5 linked regions of the Homo sapiens genome follow. The protein of the gene in region 5 purifies or fractionates together with the protein of the main gene of each other region. This does not show direct contact. Each region holds a gene or a part of one and is shown on either strand. Other genes may lie near its edges.

Evidence for each region.
Region 1: the proteins of CENPE (region 5) and SVIL purify together in Homo sapiens (affinity purification with mass spectrometry; one large-scale study listed by BioGRID and IntAct). This does not show direct contact.
Region 2: the proteins of CENPE (region 5) and CEP131 purify together in Homo sapiens (affinity purification with mass spectrometry; one large-scale study listed by BioGRID and IntAct). This does not show direct contact.
Region 3: the proteins of CENPE (region 5) and NKAP purify together in Homo sapiens (affinity purification with western blotting; one study listed by BioGRID). This does not show direct contact.
Region 4: the proteins of CENPE (region 5) and OFD1 purify together in Homo sapiens (affinity purification with mass spectrometry; one large-scale study listed by BioGRID and IntAct). This does not show direct contact.

What each region holds. Positions count from the first base shown.
Region 1 is NC_000010.11:29,526,970-29,530,487, reverse strand, and holds part of SVIL (supervillin), read left to right. Parts: intron 1-643; coding exon 644-783; intron 784-3,431; coding exon 3,432-3,518.
Region 2 is NC_000017.11:81,191,949-81,195,466, forward strand, and holds part of CEP131 (centrosomal protein of 131 kDa), read right to left. Parts: intron 3,025-3,518; coding exon 2,922-3,024; intron 2,180-2,921; coding exon 1,978-2,179; intron 896-1,977; coding exon 788-895; intron 646-787; coding exon 528-645; intron 445-527; coding exon 370-444; intron 1-369. UniProt on the Homo sapiens protein: Component of centriolar satellites contributing to the building of a complex and dynamic network required to regulate cilia/flagellum formation.
Region 3 is NC_000023.11:119,930,245-119,933,762, reverse strand, and holds part of NKAP (NF-kappa-B-activating protein), read left to right. Parts: intron 1-1,546; coding exon 1,547-1,656; intron 1,657-1,751; coding exon 1,752-1,827; intron 1,828-3,518. UniProt on the Homo sapiens protein: Acts as a transcriptional repressor. Plays a role as a transcriptional corepressor of the Notch-mediated signaling required for T-cell development. Also involved in the TNF and IL-1 induced NF-kappa-B activation.
Region 4 is NC_000023.11:13,741,240-13,744,757, reverse strand, and holds part of OFD1 (centriole and centriolar satellite protein OFD1), read right to left. Parts: intron 344-3,518; coding exon 239-343; intron 1-238. UniProt on the Homo sapiens protein: Component of the centrioles controlling mother and daughter centrioles length. Recruits to the centriole IFT88 and centriole distal appendage-specific proteins including CEP164. Involved in the biogenesis of the cilium, a centriole-associated function.
Region 5 is NC_000004.12:103,191,836-103,195,353, forward strand, and holds part of CENPE (centromere-associated protein E isoform 1 precursor), read right to left. Parts: intron 3,399-3,518; coding exon 3,279-3,398; intron 2,850-3,278; coding exon 2,768-2,849; intron 2,607-2,767; coding exon 2,539-2,606; intron 2,460-2,538; coding exon 2,394-2,459; intron 1-2,393. UniProt on the Homo sapiens protein: Microtubule plus-end-directed kinetochore motor which plays an important role in chromosome congression, microtubule-kinetochore conjugation and spindle assembly checkpoint activation.

The sequences.
Region 1 (3,518 bases), on a different chromosome or scaffold from region 5:
ACAGTGAGACCCCCATCTCAAAAAAAATAAAAATTGTAAGCCTTAGGGAGGGGGAATCTTGTGGACCCAGCCTACTTCATGCACCTCTGGGCATGCTAAGGCCCTCCTGCCTCTGGCCCACCTGTTGTTCTCTTCCTAATCTTTGGCTGGTTGTGGCCACCTCATGGACACAGCATGAGTGTACACTTCTGACAACAATACGAGGTGCTCATTAGTGACCCCTCCTGTAGGTCCTGTAGGAGAACAAAGTGAAGAATTTTTACTACCCCCATTTCCTTTCCTTGAATTTCTTTGTTATTTTTAATTTTTTTTTAGAGATAGGGTCTCACTCTCTCACTCAGGGTTGAGTGCAGCAATGTGATCATAGCTCACTGCAGCCTCAACTTCCCAGGCTCAAGTGATGTTCCCACCTCAGCCTCCCAAGTAGCTGGGACTACAGGCCTGTGCCAGCATGCCTGGCTAATTTATGCATTTTTTGTAGAGATGAGGGGGTCTCACTTTGTTGCCCAGGCTGGTCTTGAACTCTTGGCCTCCAGCAATCTTCCCTCCTTAGCCTCCCAAAGTGCTGGGATTACAGGCGTGAGCCACCGTGCCCAGCTCTTTCCTTGAATTTATAAGGGTTCCACAATACTTCTAATCTTAGGAGATGGAAAAATCTTTTGATGAACAAAATGTTCCAAAGCGACGCTCAAGAAACACAGCTGTGGAGCAGAGGCTACGCCGTCTGCAGGACAGGTCCCTCACCCAGCCCATCACCACTGAAGAGGTGGTCATCGCAGCCACGTAAGTGCCCACAGGACTTCTCAGCCTTGTCTATAGTGTCTTTTTTTAAAAAAATACATTTAAAGAGTGTTCAATGAAAATGAGGCATTGGGGAGGTGATTTAGCTAGAAGCCACAGAGAAGTTAGTACTAAGGGATTTTGTTTACTGTGGTCTCTCTAAACTTTGTAATGGGATGTGTATCTTCTAGAAAAACTTGAAAGGAGTTTTTGTTCTATTTTGTTTCTGTCTCTGCATATTGATATTTTAAAAATCTCTTTGACAACGGAAAATAGAAACATGAAACTTGGTGGATTGCTGTGATGAAACCCCAGCTTCCACGGTCACCCGCTCCTGGCCGGTGATGCTCAGCCCGTGTGCCATTCATTTCCCCTTTCCTCCTGTGCTATTTTCAAGCAAACACTAGAGGTCTTACCATTTCATCCATAAATATCCCAGTACGCCCCTCTAAAAGATAAGGTTTGTTTTGTTCTTAATTGCCAGAAATCTCTTTTCTTTTTTTCTTTTTTTTTTTTTTTTTTTTTTTTTTTTGAGAGAGAGTCTTGCTCTGTCACCCAGAACGGAGTGCAGTGGCATGATCTCGGCTCACTGCAACCTCCGCCTCCTGGGTTCAAGCGATTCTCCTGCCTCCACCTCCCGAGTAGTTGGGATTACAGGCATGTGCCACCACACTCAGCTAATTTTTGTATTTTTAGTAGAGACGGGGTTTCACCATGTTGGCCAGGCTGGTCTCAAACTCCTGACCTCAGGTGATCCATGCCTCAGCCTCCCAAAGTGCTGGGATTAATTGCCAGAAATTTCTAAAAATTAAATTGCAGTTTGATAACTTTCCAAACAATAGGAAGTTTGTTTTGAATAATATGTTTCAATATATTCAGAATTAATTTCCCAGAGTAGTTCATTCAGAGATCATTGCTTCAATCAAGTGAAAAATTTTCTTATTTTTGCGGGGGGCATTGTTTGTTTTTTTGAGGCAGTGTCTCACTCTGTTACTCAGGCTGGAATGCAGTGCGCCATCTTGGCTCATTACAGCCTCAACCTCCTGGGCTCAATTGACCCTCCAACCTCAGCCTCCCAAGTAGTTGGGACTGTAGGCCCAACCACCACACCTGGCTAATTTTTGTATTTTTTGTGGTGATGGGGTTTTGCCATGTTGCCCAGTCTGATCTTAAACTCCTGGGCTCAAGCGATCCTCCCACCTCAGCCTCCCAAAGTGCTGGAGCTACAGGCGTGAGCCACTGTACCCAGCCTAGTTTTGTTGTTGTTGATGTTGTTAATTGGTTTTGTGCTTACCTTGGACACACAGACACCCTTCCTGGAAAAAAAAATAGTTCATCCCATTAGGTTATTGACATCCCAAAAGGCCTCTATGTCAGTGCCCCGTTCTGTAGACCTGCTGTTAGATCAGCTGCCTACAGTTCCTCCCCGAGTTGTTCCTCAGTTTCTTGGTGCATTTGTAGCTAAGTATATCCTTGCACTCATTAGGAACTCTTTGCAAATCAGTTTGTTTTTTAAAAAAAGAAATATTTGAATGGCTGGTGTAAAATAACAGGCAGATACCCATGGGAGCAAAACAGTAAATATAAGAAAAATTAATCCCATTTTAAGGCTCAATAAATCTACCTTGATGTGCCTATAGATTGTATAAGAACACTGATACTTTTAAAAAGTAGATTGAGGCCGGGTGCAGTGGCTCACACCTGTAATCCCAGCACTTAGGGAGGCAGAGGTGGGTGGATCACCTGAAGTCAGGAGTTCAAGACCAGCCTGGCCAACATGGTGAAACCCCGTCCCTACTAAAAAATACAAAAATATTGGCCAGGCATGGTGGCGCACGCCTGTAATCCCAGCTACTCGGGAGGCTGAGGCAGGAGAAATGCTTAAACCCAGGAGGTGGAGGCTGCAGTGAGCCGAGATCGCGCCACTGCATTCCAGCCTGGGCGACAGAGTGAGACTCTGTCAAAAAAAAAAAAAAAAAAAAAGGCTGGGCCCAGTGGCTTACACCTGTAATCCCAGCACTTTGGGAGGCTGAGGCAGGTGGATCACGAGGTCAAGAGATCAAGACCATCCTGGCCAACATGGTGAAACCTCATCTCTAATAAAAATACAAAAATTAACTGGGCGTGGTGGTGCGCGCCTGTAATCCCAGCTACTCAGGAGGCTGAGGCAGGAGAATCACTTGACCCCGGGAGGCGGAGTTTGCAGTGAGCCAAGATCATGCCACTGCACTCCAGCCTGGTGACAGAGACAGACTCCATCTCCAAAAAAGAAAAAGAAAGAAAAAAATTAGATTGGAAACAATATTCTAAAACACAGACATAATCTACTGATTTTTTGATAGCTAATATTTGCTTTTTTGAATTATTATTTTTTTTACACCAAGACATGTATTCTCAAGACAGAGTAAATCCTCCCAGCTCTGAACACCTATTCTTACCCCATTTGCTTTGGGTAGCCACTATCTCTTATTTCCTGAGTTTGTATTTGCTTTTGAAGTTCTTTCGTGATTTTTTCTCCCCAAAAATAATTAGCAAAATATTCTGTTAAAATTTTTGATTTAACGTTTCTGAATTTAAAACTATGCTGTCCTTAATGCTTCTTTTCTTCTCTCTCCTTATGAATGTTTCCTCTTTGGCAATTGCTTTTAAAGTGAACCTATCCCCGCTTCGTGTTCTGGGGGCACCCACCCTGTAATGGCGAGACTTCCTAGCCCCACTGTAGCTAGGAGCGCTGTGCA
Region 2 (3,518 bases), on a different chromosome or scaffold from region 5:
AGAAGGCCCCAGAGGCTAAGGGGGGAGCCCCTGTTGTGCGTGTCCCTCTCGGTACATCTGAGTGTCAGTGGGCTGGTCGTGGGGCGCAGGGGTGTAGCAGCCCCTAGCGAGAGGGGCAACGCCTGTTCTCGGACCACAGAGGATGCGCTCCAGGCACCCTTGATCCTTCCAGAGCCCACGCAAAAGATGGGCTGAAAGCAACACACTCAGCGTCAGTTCAGACAACAACCCCAAGCAGCCAGATGTGACTCCCAGAAACGAGCCCCCAGGATGCCACAGCAGCAGCAAAACCCACCTGGGGCAGCCCCCAACTCCTGCCCACGCAGGGCAGCCCCCAACCCCTGCCCACCTGGGTGCCCAGGCCCCCACCTCCTTCCTGGTGCGGCCGGCCTCCCACGCCTGCCTCTCCAGCTCCAGCTGCTGCTTCAGGGTATTCAGCTCCATCTGGGGGGCGGACATAAGAGGCCAGTCAGTCCCACCCCGTGCAGCCCCCTGGCCAGGCCCAGCACAGCCCTCCGGTGGTAGACCTGGTGCCGGCGCTCCTGCTCCTCCCTGCCCTTCTCAAACTCAGCCCTCAGGGCTCGGGTCAGTGCAGAGCTGCTCTCCTCCAGCTGCTGCCTCAGCTCTTCCAGCTCCGCCCGCTGCCTGCGGCCAGGGAGGAGTCAGCAGGTGAGGGGTCATCGAGTAAGGAGTCAGGGATGGGAGAGGTCAGCGGGTGAGGGGGCGGGGGGGAGGGGTCAGCCAGCGAGGGGTCCCTGGGAGAGGGCGTGGTGCCCCCGGGCGGCACCTGGCTGCCTGCTGGCCCAGCCGCTCCCTCTCCTCAGCCACCTCACTGTACAGCCGCTGCCGTTGCTGCTGCAGCGCCCACTGCTCCTGCTCCAGGTGCTGCTGGAACCTGCGGGACGGTCAGGACTGGCTCTCGGGGGCCGGGACGGGCGGTCCCAGGACCCACCCACCGCAGGGGCACGGGCCGACCACAGGCCTGACTCACAGCTGGAGAGCAGCCCTCCGGGGCCCTGCCCCTCCCCCTCGGCAGTCAAGGCCCCTCAAAGCCACCGCCCGGGGGCAGGCAAGGCCACGAGGAACTTGCCCATCAGCCAAGCGCAGCAATTCCCTGAGCTCCAGGCCCTCGTGGCACTTTGGGAAGTGGCTGTGGAGCCGCGTCCAGGCCCCCTTTTCCCTCAGCCCGTGTGCCGGCCTCACCCTGTTCAGCATTGCCCCACGGGCATGGAGGGCGGGAGGCAGGTGCCTCGTGGGGCCTTATCCACCTCCCCTGCCTCCGGCCTGAGGGTGCCAGGTGCCTGGCTCCGTGACCTGAGCAAGCTCGCGCCAGGGCCTCGTCCTGACCCCACCTTCGAGGAGAGACTGGGGGACCAGCCAAGCTGCATCTGGGGAGGACCAGCCACGACAGGCAACAGGGTGGATAGGAGAGGGTGGCTTCCAGGCTGTCCTGGTGGCGCAGACAGTGCAGGAGGGGCTGCCACTGCCCCCTGTGGCCCGCAGATCCTGACCACCACTGGGCACGTCCCCAGCCCCCAGGGCTCAGGACGCAAGAGCAGCAGTCACCCCTCAGACCCCAGGCCAAGGGAGTGAATGAGAGAGACCGTCCCTGGGCCCCAAGGTCAGAGCTGGAGGGGCCTCGAGGCCGCCTATCCACGGGTTGCTGCTCTGGGGCCAGTTGTGAAAGAGTGGATGTCTGGTGGGGGTTCCCAGCCCTGACCCTGGGAAAACACCCGTGCACCCATGCAGAACCTGCAGACCTCGGCGGGCATGAACTGCAGACACAAGCCCGAGGACACTGGCCCGGCTGAGGCTGGGCCCCCAAGGGCCACTCCAGGGCCAAGGGCCCTGCGTCCTCCCTGCATGCTGCACTAAGACCCTCGCCCACCTCTACATGGGAACTCCACTCCAGCCTTCGAGGATTCCGACTCCCCGCCCTGAGGGTCCTGGCCCCACCGGCCTGGGGCCACCACCCACCGCTGCCGAGCACGTTCGCGCTCCTGCTGGCCCAGCGCCTCCTTCTCCCGCTCCAGCTGCTCCCGCAGCTCCTCGGCCTGGCGCAGGCAGCGCTGCGAGGCCCGCTCATCCGACTGCAGCAGCTCCGCCTCGTGCAGGCTCTTGAGCCTCCGCACTTCCTGCTTGTGCCTTGCAATCAGCTTCTGGATCTCGGGCTCCAGACCTGGGGGCGGGGCACCAGCTAGGGCCACGTCCAGCTAGGGTGGGCCCGGGAAGTCCAACCCTGGCACAAGACCAGCCTGTCTCAGGCCCAGAGGGGACCCCGCCCACCCAGGGCCTCCTTGGATCCAACCCGAAGCACAGCTGAGTCTTGACGCCCACGAGGTGGGGAAGAGACCCCCACAGGGCCACGGCGCCTCTCCCAGCCTGTGGGGCTCAGGGCTCCTGACACTCCTGGTGCTACCACTGACGGCTCCCAGGCACCCTGGCAGGTGTCCAGAGCGAGAGGACCAGGCCTCGGGGAGCCCTGCACATCACCCAAGGGTCCGAGGCCCCTTCAGACCACAACACCCACCAGCCTCCTGCCCCATCCGCCTGCCTGCCCCTGCCTCCTCCTGTGGCTCACTCTGCTTCCCGTGGCAGGGCCCACGTGCCACAGTCGTCCACAAACTCCCAATCTCCCCTAGCCCAACCCTGAGGAAGTGAGGCACTGAGCCCCCTCGTTTCAGGCAACTGCCTAGATGCTGGGGGCTGGGCCAGGCTCCTGTGTGGAGCCCACCTGCCCCCCGGGTCACGGCAGAAGCCGCAGCGGAGGCCGTGACGGGGGTGGTTGGGGCATGAGTGTTCACCTCTGCCCAGGAAGGTCTCGGACTACATGAATGCCTGAAGTTATGGCTCTCTCAAAAGAAGCCCTGGCCGCAGCACCCACCCCACACCTGGCCGGCTCATGGGAGGGGAGGGCCCACCTCGGACAGTGACCTCCTTGATCTTCTTGGTTTTCTCACTGATCCACTTCTCCCGGCGGGCTTTCTCGGTGGCGCTCATTAATTCTTTGAGTTTTTTAATCTCCTACGAGCAGAACAGGGCAGGAGGAAACGACACGAAGGACACCCCCGTCCCTTTGCCACCCTGTGGGCACAGTCAGGGCCGGGCTTCCAGGTCCACCAGCACAAGGCCGGCACTCATGGTTGGGTGTGCTGCCCCGAGACAGAGCCACTGCTGCCCTCCCCAGCGCCCGGGGCCAGGCTGGAGGCCCAGGCCCACCCTGCCACACACCTTGGTGGCCTGAGACATGGGAGGGCAGCCATCAGCCTGCAGAGGCCTTGCCCCAGAGAGGGGTGCTGCTGCCTGTCGGGACGGCCCCAGAGCCTGCATTCTTCCATGGGACTGGCAGTCCTCAACCCCGGCTGTCAGCCACAGTCACGTGCAGGGATTTTAAAATGCCAGTGCCAAGCCCCACTCCAGAACCTGGGCTCGGGACCATCACTGCCCAAGCTGGTGGGAAGCATAGCCAGGGAGGCTGAGGCCCCCAGGGAGCTCACACAGCGGGAAGGGGCGGGGAG
Region 3 (3,518 bases), on a different chromosome or scaffold from region 5:
AGGATCGCTTGAGCCCAGGAGTTCAATACCAGCCTGGGCAACATAGCGAGATCCTGTCTCTATATTTAAAAAAAAAACAAAAACCCATAACCAGAATGCTATTATTGTGCCTAAAACATTTAATAATAATTCCTCTATTCTCAGCAGTTTTTTCTGTAGTTTATTCCAATCAGGATCCAAATAATGTCCCTAAATTGCAGTGACCGTATTCTTATGGTATTCTTTGGCATGTTCTGTCCTCTGTATTTCCAATAGATTAATAGGTCTAGAGGCCTGAGAAGGCTCAGATTTGAGTTGGGGCAAGAATACTTCATAAGTGGTGCTGTTTACTGTCAGGAGGCAAATAATGTCTGGTTGTCACTTTTTGTCATATTAACAGCCATTGATGGTCATTATCTCGATCCATTATTTCATTAGGGGTTGTAAAATGGTGATAGTCTAATCCTGGCTTTATCCTTCATTTATTAGGCAGAATGATTCTATAAGAGAAACTTACCCTCATCAACTATTTAGATACCCTGAAATATAGTTTATATTGTAAGAGCAGGATAATTGCTTGATTTTTTTTGTTTTAATGACTTTTCAAATAATGAATTGGATTTTTAAAAAGTATTATTAACCCAAGGATTTAAACATATTTGACATATTTTAATCCATTACACATAAAATTATTCATAATGTTCAAATTGTTGGGACTTTTTAGGCTGTTTTATTTCTGTTGTCTTTCTACAACATCAGAACTGTATTTCATTGTTCCCTTTAGTGAATTTTTTTTTTTTTGAGACCGTGTCTCACCCTGTCACCCAGGCTGGAATGCAGTGGCACGATCACAGCTCACTACAACCTCAACCTTCCAGGATCAAGCCATCCTCCCACCTCTGCCCCCACTTTCCCCATACCTGGGACTACAGGCGTGTGCCACCACACCTGGCTAATTTTTGTATTTTTTGTAGAGACACGGTTTCGTCATGTTGCCCAGGGCTAGTTTCTAACCCCTGGGCTCAAGTGACCCACCCGCCTCAGTCTTCCAATGTGCTGGGATTACAGGGGTGAAACACTACACCCAGCCTCCTTTAGTGATAATTTTTATAGCAAAAGATGATTTGGTTAAATAAGTTAGAATACTTTTTAAAAAAATTCTTAAGAGGCAGTGTCTCGCTCTGTTGCCCAGACTGGAGTGCAGTGGGCTAATCATAGCTCATTGCAGCCTCGAACTCCTGGGCTCAAGTGATCCTCCCGCCTCAGCCTCCTGAATAGCTTAGACTACAGATGTGTGCCATCACACCCAGCTACTTTTTTTTTTTTTTAATAGAGACGGGGTCTTGCTCTGTTTCCCAGGTTCAGTTAGAAGCAGATTTTTTTAAGTAAAATTATCTTGTAAGTTTGAATAAGCTGGGAATTCAGATCATTTTATTGTCACCTTTCTTTGCCTTGAAAAATTAAGATGTATAGTCACCAGTTCAAAATTTAAAAAGAAAAGAAAAATTAAGATGCCCTCTAACATAGGAAGATTAAGTGAATTTGTATCAAATTAAAATCCCTATAGGAAGAAATATAAGAAAAAGAGGTCTAAGAAGAGCAGAAAAGAGTCCAGTGATTCAAGCTCTAAAGAATCCCAAGAAGAGTTTCTGGAAAATCCCTGGAAGGATCGAACAAGTAGGTTCTTCTGATAGACTAACTCAGAACAGATGAAACATTAAAGTAACCAATTAGTCAGAATGTGAATGTGTTTCTTAATATCTTTCATGCAGAGGCTGAAGAACCATCAGATTTAATTGGCCCAGAGGCTCCAAAAACACTTACCTCTCAAGATGATAAACCTTTGAAGTAAGCAGCAGTGTGTTTATAATATCTAAAGTACCTACCAAAAAGTCTGGTTCTAACTTACCTTGCCAAGCTTATCTGACTCTATTCCCTTATTTCTACTCCAGGTTCCAGCTGAGCTGGACTACTAAATATTCCCTGGGCTTAATGTGCACTTTGCAACTTTTATGCCATGTTCAGCTTATTTCTTCATCCAGTATGCCTTCCCTTCTTTTCCCTGCCCTCTGTTTTCTTCCCTATCGCCAGTTTCTTCCTGTTAAAATCCTTACTATCCTTCGAAGCCCTTTTCAAAAGGAGATGCATATGCTGATTCCCAATACTTCCCCTCCACAAGTAGGTGTGATTTCTGTTTCTCTTTGATCCTCACAGAATTTTTTATTCCTTTTTTTCTCTTTTTTCTTTTTTTACCAGCAGAATTTTTTTTTCTTTTTGTGAGACGGAGTCTCGCTCTGTTGCCCAGGCTGGAGTTTAGTGGCGTGATCTTGGCTCACTGCAACCTCTGCCTCCCAGGTTCAAGCGATTCTCCTGCCTCAGCCTCCTGAGTAACTGGGATTACAGGCACGCGCCACCACACTCAGCTAATTTTTTTTTGTATTTTCAGTAGAGATACGGTTTTACCATGTTGGTCAGGCTGGTCTCAAATTCCTGACCTCATGATCCACCTGCCTCAGCCTCCCAAAGTGCTGGGATTACAGGCGTGAGCCACCGCACCTGGTCTAGAATTTTTTTTTTGTTTGTTTTGTTTTGTTTTTTTGAGATGGAGTCTCACTCTGTCTCCCAGGCTGAAGCACAGTGGTGTGATTGAGTTTCACTCTGTTGCCCAGGCTGGAGTGCAGTGGCATGATCTTGGCTCACTGCAACCTCCACCTCCCAGATTCAAGTGATTCTCCTGCCTCAGCCTCCCAAGTAGCCAGGATTACAGGCGCCTGCCGCCACGCCCGGACTAATTTTTGTATTTTTAGTAGAGCTGGGGTTTCGCCATGTTGGCCAGTATGGTCTCGAACTCCTGATCTCAAGTGATCTGCCCGCCTCAACCTCCAAAAATGCTGAGATTACAGGCGTCAGCCACTGCACCCAGCCTACTTTGTTTTTTTTTTTTGTTTTGTTTTGTTTTGTTTTTTGAGACAAAGCCTTACTCTGTCGCCCAGGCTGGAGTGCAGTGACACGATCTCGGCTCACTGCAACCTCTGCCTCCCAGGTTCAAGTGATTCTCCTGCCTCAGCCTCCTGAGTAGCTGGGACTACAAGCATGCACCACCATGCCCGGCTAATTTTGTATTTTTAGTAGAGACGGGGTTTCGCTATGTTGGCCAGGCTGCTCTCAAGCTCCTGATCTCAGGTGATCCTCCCGCCTCAGCCTCCCAAAGTGTTCAGATTGTAGGCGTGAGCCACTGTGCCTGGCATACTTTGGATTTTTTAAGGGAAAAAGGGAAAGGGAATCAGCTGGAGCCAGAACCAGTAATGACAATACCTGTAGGGATAAATTAATCCATAATTGTAAACTGTGAATCTATACTCACAGCAGTTCTTTTCTTTCAAAATATTTCTGCATTTCTGGGTTAGTTGTATAGGTCATAGTGCAATGCAATGTTTAATACACTAATTAGGATAAAGCAATTCACATTGAGCTTCCTAGCACACTACTGCTGAGCACTGTTATTCCTACTCTTGTTTGAGAGAAAATGTGGGGATTTT
Region 4 (3,518 bases), on a different chromosome or scaffold from region 5:
GGCCTTTGAATCCCTGCATGATTTGGCCAGTGTAGCCCTGGCATTCATGAGGCTAGGGAATGACACTGGAGAGCACTTCCTGGTCCCCCAAGATGATTCCAGAAATGAATTCCCTTGTTGCCTGCCGGCTGCATCCCTCCAGTTCAAGGAGCAATCACACAATATGGTAAATCAGATAATTTCCTTCATTCAAAATGAAAACAGCAGAACTGAAATTAAGAAAGAAGGCTATAATTACCCAGAGAATCTCTGTTAAATGTCGAACTTGTCTGAGTTTCCATATTACAACTCTCTTTAGCTTGATGATATTCTGCCAATTCTTTTAAAAAATGCATAAGAAAACCTAAAAAACATATGCATACAGTTTTGTTTCAGAACTTTCAACCACTGCTCAGTCACTGTTTTTACAATCTTAGTTTTAGGACATTATCATTTTTTACATTATATATCTTTCCTTTTTTTTAGAGACAAAAGTCTTGCTCTGTCACCCAGGCTGGAGTGCAGTGGTGTAATCATGGCTCACTGCGGCCTCGACCTCCTGGGCTCAAGCAATCCTCCTACATCAGTCTCCCAAGTAGCTGGGACTAGAGGTGCACACCACCACCCACCACGCCCAGCTAATTTTACTTTTTGTATAAACAGGGTCTTGCTATGTTGCCCAGGCTAGTCTCAAACTCATGGCCTCAAGCAATCCTCCTGCCTGGGCCTCCCAAAGTGCTGGGATCACAAGCATGAGCCACTGTGCCCAGTCATATCTTTTAATAAATCTGAGAAAAGGCCTTCCCAAGCATGATACAGAACCTGGAAGGAATAAGGAGAAATATTTATCAATCTAACTACATAAAAACTGAAAACTTACATATGGCATAAAATAAAAAAATAACACACTGGGAAAAATAGTTGCAATAATATGGAGGCATAACCAAGACTAAAGTGATGACATTTTCATAACATCAAAGAACTCTTACAAATCAGTTTAAAAAAAAAAAATCAGAAAAATGGGGAAAAACATGGGTAGTTTGCAGAAAAAACTACATTGTCAAAGATGAACACAATTTTTAGATGCTGAATAAACATGAACAAAATCATAAATGCAAATTAATACAACAGAGAAACCATTATTTTCCCTATAACACTGCTAAGATTAAAACTTGTATAATGCTAAGTGTTGGCAAGGGAGTGGATATATAGCTATACTCATTCACTTGGAAGAGAAATTTGTCAGTGCTTATATATATTCGAAATGCATGTGCCCTTTAATCTAGTCATTCCACTTCTATGAATTTACACAGGTATACTTTCACAAGGGCACAAAGGGTGCACACTGCACATAGGTTACCTGTAATGGCAAAAAGCAAACAATAAAACAACCAGATCTCCATCAATAGGGGGTTAAATACATTATTTAAAAATAATTAGTCTATACTGCTACAGAAAGATACATTGGTGGATTAAAAAAAGCAAATTGCATACAGTATCTACGATATAATCCCAATTGATTGTGTTTTAATTACAAATACATAGTTTTAACCTCAAACAATTCTAGAAGATAAACAAGAAACTGTTAATTCTAGTTATCAGTGGAGTGAAACTGTTAATTCTAGTTATCAGTGGAGCGTGAGATTAGAGAACATGGGCAGAAACTGCTACTTTGCTTTCACTTTATATCCTTCTGAATAGTTTGAAACTGTTTTAAACCACAAGCATAAATTACTTAAGAAATGTTTAGTTTCTTGGAACTAAAAACAGTAGTTAGCTCAGCACCTTTTCCCCCACCCCCACTCCCTTCAGGAAGGGGATTAGATTTTGTCACAGTCTGCATACCATCCTGGGATCACCTGACCTAAATTTGCAAACATTAAGGTTCACTCTTGATGACGTAAAGCTCTATGGGTTTCGACACTGGGTCTTTCATTCTCTTAACAGCGTCTTTTGGCAGGGTACAGTGGCTCACGCTTGTCATCCCAGCACTCTGGGAGGCTGAGGCAGGCGATCACCTGAGGTCAGGGGATCGAGACCAGCCTGATCAACATGGTGAACCCCATCTCTATTGAAAACACAAAAAAATTAGCCAGGCGTGGTGGCAGGCGCCTGTAGTTCCAGCTACTCAGGAGGCTGAGACAGGAGAATCACTTGAACCCAGGAGGCAGAGGCTGCAGTGAGCCGAGGTCACGCCACTGCACTCCAGCCTGGGTGGCAGAGTGAAACTCCGTCTCAAAAACAAAACAAAAAGAACAGTGTCTTTCACAGAGATGTTTTTAATTTTAATAAAGTCTAACTGATCTACTTTTTTCTTTCATGTATCTTGCTCTTGGTGTTACATCTCATCACGAAACCCAAGATCACAGACTTTCTACTGTTCTCATCTGGAAGTTTTATAGTTTTGCATTTTACATTTAGGTCTATGGTTCATTTTGAGTTAGTTTTTGTGTAAGGTATAATAAATAAGATCTGTGTCTAGGTTCATTTTTGCGCATATGAATATCCAACTGTTACAGCACCACTTGTTGAAAAGACTATCTTTCCTCTATTGAATTGCCTTTGCACCTTTGTTAAAAAAAAAATCAATTGACTATATTTGTGTGGATGTATTTCTGGACTTCCTAATTCTGTCCCCATTGATGTATATGTCTTATTCTTTTGCCAATTGCAGATAAGAATTTTTACTTCCAAAAAGCAAAGGGCCGATGTCCAAATTTTCTTCCCTCATCCAAATTTTGTGCACATCATTTTCTGGATATTGTCAGGCCTCTGAGCCGAAGCTCAGCCATTGTAACCCCCGTAACCTGCATATATACGTCCAGATGGCCTGCAGGAGCCAGCTAAAAAACCACAGAAGTGAAACAGCTCCTGCCTTAACTGACTGACCAACCTTACGACATTCCACCATTATGACTTGTTCTGCCCTGCCCCAACTGATCAATCGACCTTGTGACATTCTTCTTCTGGACAATGAGTCCCAAGATCTCTCCACCATGCACCTTGGGACCCCCTCCCCTGCTAACAATAAATAACCACCTTTAACTGTAACTTTCCACTGCCTACTCAAGCCCTATAAAGCTGCCCCTCTCCTATCTCCCTTCACTGACTCTCTTTTCGGACTCAACCCACTTGCACCCAAGTGAATAAACAGCCTTGTTCCTCACACAAAGCCTGTTTGGTGGTCTCTTCACACAGACACGCATAACAGATATCATTATCTCTGAAAGGAAAATTAGCAGTGGGAAGAATGGGTGACTAGAATCTAGGAGGAAAAGTACCAAGGCCATTCAACAGCTTAGCACCCCCTGAGCATAGATATGGTAGGATAAGACCATAGGTCTGAGTCAGGGGACAGACAACGGTTAAGTACACAATATCTTCCTACATGTTTTCTGTTACTTAATTAGAAGACACCAATTTTTAAAAAAATTTTATCTTACCAGGAGCTATTTTGTTAGCTAAGAGTTCTATCCAAATTTTGGCACTAGGATGCCTGACCTATCTGCTACTCATAGTTTTTCTGGCTTCCAGAAATT
Region 5 (3,518 bases):
AAAAGAGAACCTTGCATAAAGCTCAGCAATGACTCTCACAATGGATCCACTATGACTACTGGGTGGAGGATGGATTGGGAAGGGGCAAGAGCAGCTGCAGGCAGCCCCATCAGGCAGCTGGGGCAGGAATCTCGGTGAGAGATAATACCAGCTTGGGTTAGGGAGGTGGCAGAGGAGACTGCTTGTAAGAGAAGCAGTGAAGGGGTGTCTTGTTTATTGTTTTTTTAATCTCAGAGCCCAACACCATGCTCAGAAGACAATAACAACTTAGTAAATATTGTGAGTGATTTGAAAGAAAGTCAAAGCTTTACGTTATTTCTCTCTGTGGAGATTTTTGAGACTAGGCAGGTAAATATGTATTACCAGTTAAGGAGGCTAATTTTTCTTGCACAGTGTCCACTACAGATGACACAGATACATAATAAAAGGGCAAAGTGGTAATGAAGGCAGCATGAGTGAAGGTTAAAGATGAGAACAAGCATTCATATTCAAAGATACTCAGAGGCCCAATCTATGAGGGAGGAGTTCATGTAGAGCAGAAGGAAATAAAGTTAGATTGGTTAAGAGTGGCCAAATCTTGCCCCAGGAAGTGATATACAAAAGCAATGGTTAGTATATTCGAAATCCTTATGATGACTTCAAGAAACAAAGACAAGGGTCATGGAGACAAGGTTCCAGGAGACTGACATAGTAATTCAAGAGAGATGAGAAAGTAAATGAGTGTAGCACCCATGGAAATGTTTAAAGGTAGGATCAGTAAGAAATGGGACAAGTGGACAAAGAGAAAGGCAGAAAAAGATGAGTCAAAATTGACTTAGGTTTCCAGCTTAGGCAGCTAGGATAATGCTGGTTTTACTGGAAATAAGGAATATTCACTATGGTAGGAAGAAAATAGTTTCGTTTTAGACATATTAAAGTTTGAGATAATGATGGGACACAATTATAACCATCTTTAGGAAGACATGAATTAGAATTCAGAGACTATAGGTAAAATATTTGGCAGTCATCAACATGGAAATGATGACAGAACATTTGAGAGCAAGAACTTGAGTAAGAAACGTCACAGAATACCTCCAAGTTTTTTTTTTTTTAATTATTTTTTTAGGAGGGTAGGGAAAAAGAAGCCAGGGTAGAAAACAGAGGAGTACAGCTAAGAGAAACTGGATATTATCATCCCACCAAGGCCAGGAGATAATCAGAAAAGAGCCACCTCTAAAGAGACAGAGATGACTCTTTAGAGACTTCTTTCCAAGAAGATTCTTAGAGTAAGTGGGTAGGCTGGAGGGTTGGAACAGATGGAACACAAATGACAGAGCATCACGTAACATGAGGAAAATCATCAAGTAGATCACTGAATATGCCAAGAGTATTAAAGCTAAATTATTAAAAGTTAAAATTATATGAAATATCACAGTCTTGGATGAGAAAACTAAAGAGGTTAGGGTTTGGTTTTTTATTGTTAAATTAAAACAAGATTAAAGTCTACTAAAATAAGTTATACAATTTTATAGCAAAATAGCTAAGGTGAAATTAGGATTGAATATTAAGTAATTAATAATCTAATTTTATAAAATCTGAAAATGAATAAACATATTATAGATTGCTTTTTTCCCTGAAGTTTTCTAATCAAATAATCTTAAATCATATCCCACATCAAGCTAAAGAATTTAGGCCCTAAAAATGCAGAATAAAGCAATATGGTAAAAGATAGAAAAGGAGCAAGAAAGAAACAGCAATAATTTAGTGTGGAAAGAAGGAAGTGAAGGTTTACTAATGTGGAATATAGGAATGTTTGCATAATGCATATATTCGCTTATTCAGCAAATCTATATTAGACATAAAATAGGTATAATGTGTTGGGGCTACCAGGATGAATGCAGTATCACTCCTCAATGGATTTACAGTCTAAAGTACTACGTTTACAATACAAAATATATTTTATTGTTGTACTTAAGTAAAACCTAAAGTAATGTGATTACTTTTTAACCATCCAACCTAGATTTTTGTTGATCACATAAGTCTAAATTACATTGGCTGAGATTTTACAAAAAGACCCTCAAATTCTAAGATGATCTAAAGTGTTAAATGTGTATAGAAAAAAATTCTACTGCATTAGTGGTTAGAAAAAACATCAATTCCTATAACCCTATAGCCCTGACATTTAAATTTTAGGAGATGGCAACCATGACATAACAGGAAGAAAGATCCTCTGAATTTTTCCTACGACATTTTAGCTAGGAATTTGATGATACTGACAAGACTAAGCAGACAATTTGTAGATTTCCTCCCACATTTAGTTTAGTTAACAGTTCTTATTAAACCAAACATCCAGCAACTAAATTAAATTTTGTTTTGGCCCATACAGTACATTATTATGGTTCATTAATACTCACCAAATGGGATACCTTAACAGATCCTTCACAATTAGAAGGTTCACCCTTCTCTCTGCTTTCCAAAATCTAGATAGAAAAGGCAAGCTGTAGAAAAATTAGTGCATTCTTACTTGGAAAGATCTAACAGATAGATAGAATTACCTACCATCCTAAAGATGGTATGAGAACGACTGCTTCTTTGATTCATTTTTGTTTCTCCATAATGCCTGCTCTCTGTAAAAATGAGTTATATTTCAGCTGCATATATAATAAAATCCATAGAAACACAATAATTTTTATTTTAACTTAAAAAAGTATGATTTGAGGTCCAAACGTGCTTGATTGAAAAGATAGTTTTTACAAGTGTTCTAAAGAAATACAGCATAAAGTCTTACTTTCTCCCTTTGTAATCCATTTCAAAGCCATTTCTGATGTATATACAACTTCTTCTGTGAGATCAGCAACATACACATTCCTCTGAAACAAGTTTAATTATGGAAAGATTAGAGAAATAGAAGTCACAAGTTTGCTTTTCAAAAGAAGGTGCAAACTATTATAGAATTCATTTGTGAAAGTTAAAAGTGGCAAATGGAACCATAATTCTGTAGGAATGTAACAAATAATTCTATGAATACCCACAATTTATTTCACATACCAAAGCACAACAAATTCTAACCTGATACTTCCAACTTGCTATTTTTACACTTAAACCAAAATATTAGAGCTGTCAGTATTTTAAAACTATTCATATTGTTTAAAAGATGAATATAAATACTTCAAAAAAACCCTCACATACTATAGAAATAGGAGACACTTTAAAAACTATAGAAATTAAAGGTAAACATTCAAGAACAATAATCTCAATAAGTCAGTCAATTTTAAAGCTCCCTTAAGTCTGCTACTCACATTGACATCTTCTCGAATAATTAAAGGTTTCATTTTTTGAGTGCCACAGAGTAAATCTGTAATGGTTTCATTGTATATTTCCATGTAAGATACACGTAAGAGAAATTCCCTATCAGGAAACTAGAAGAAAAAAAATTATATAAAAACACCAGGAAGCATCCAATTGTGAAAACCTAATGCTAAATGCTCATGTGCTTAAAGAGGTAAAATGTATGTAAAACAAACTAAGAAACCCCTTGG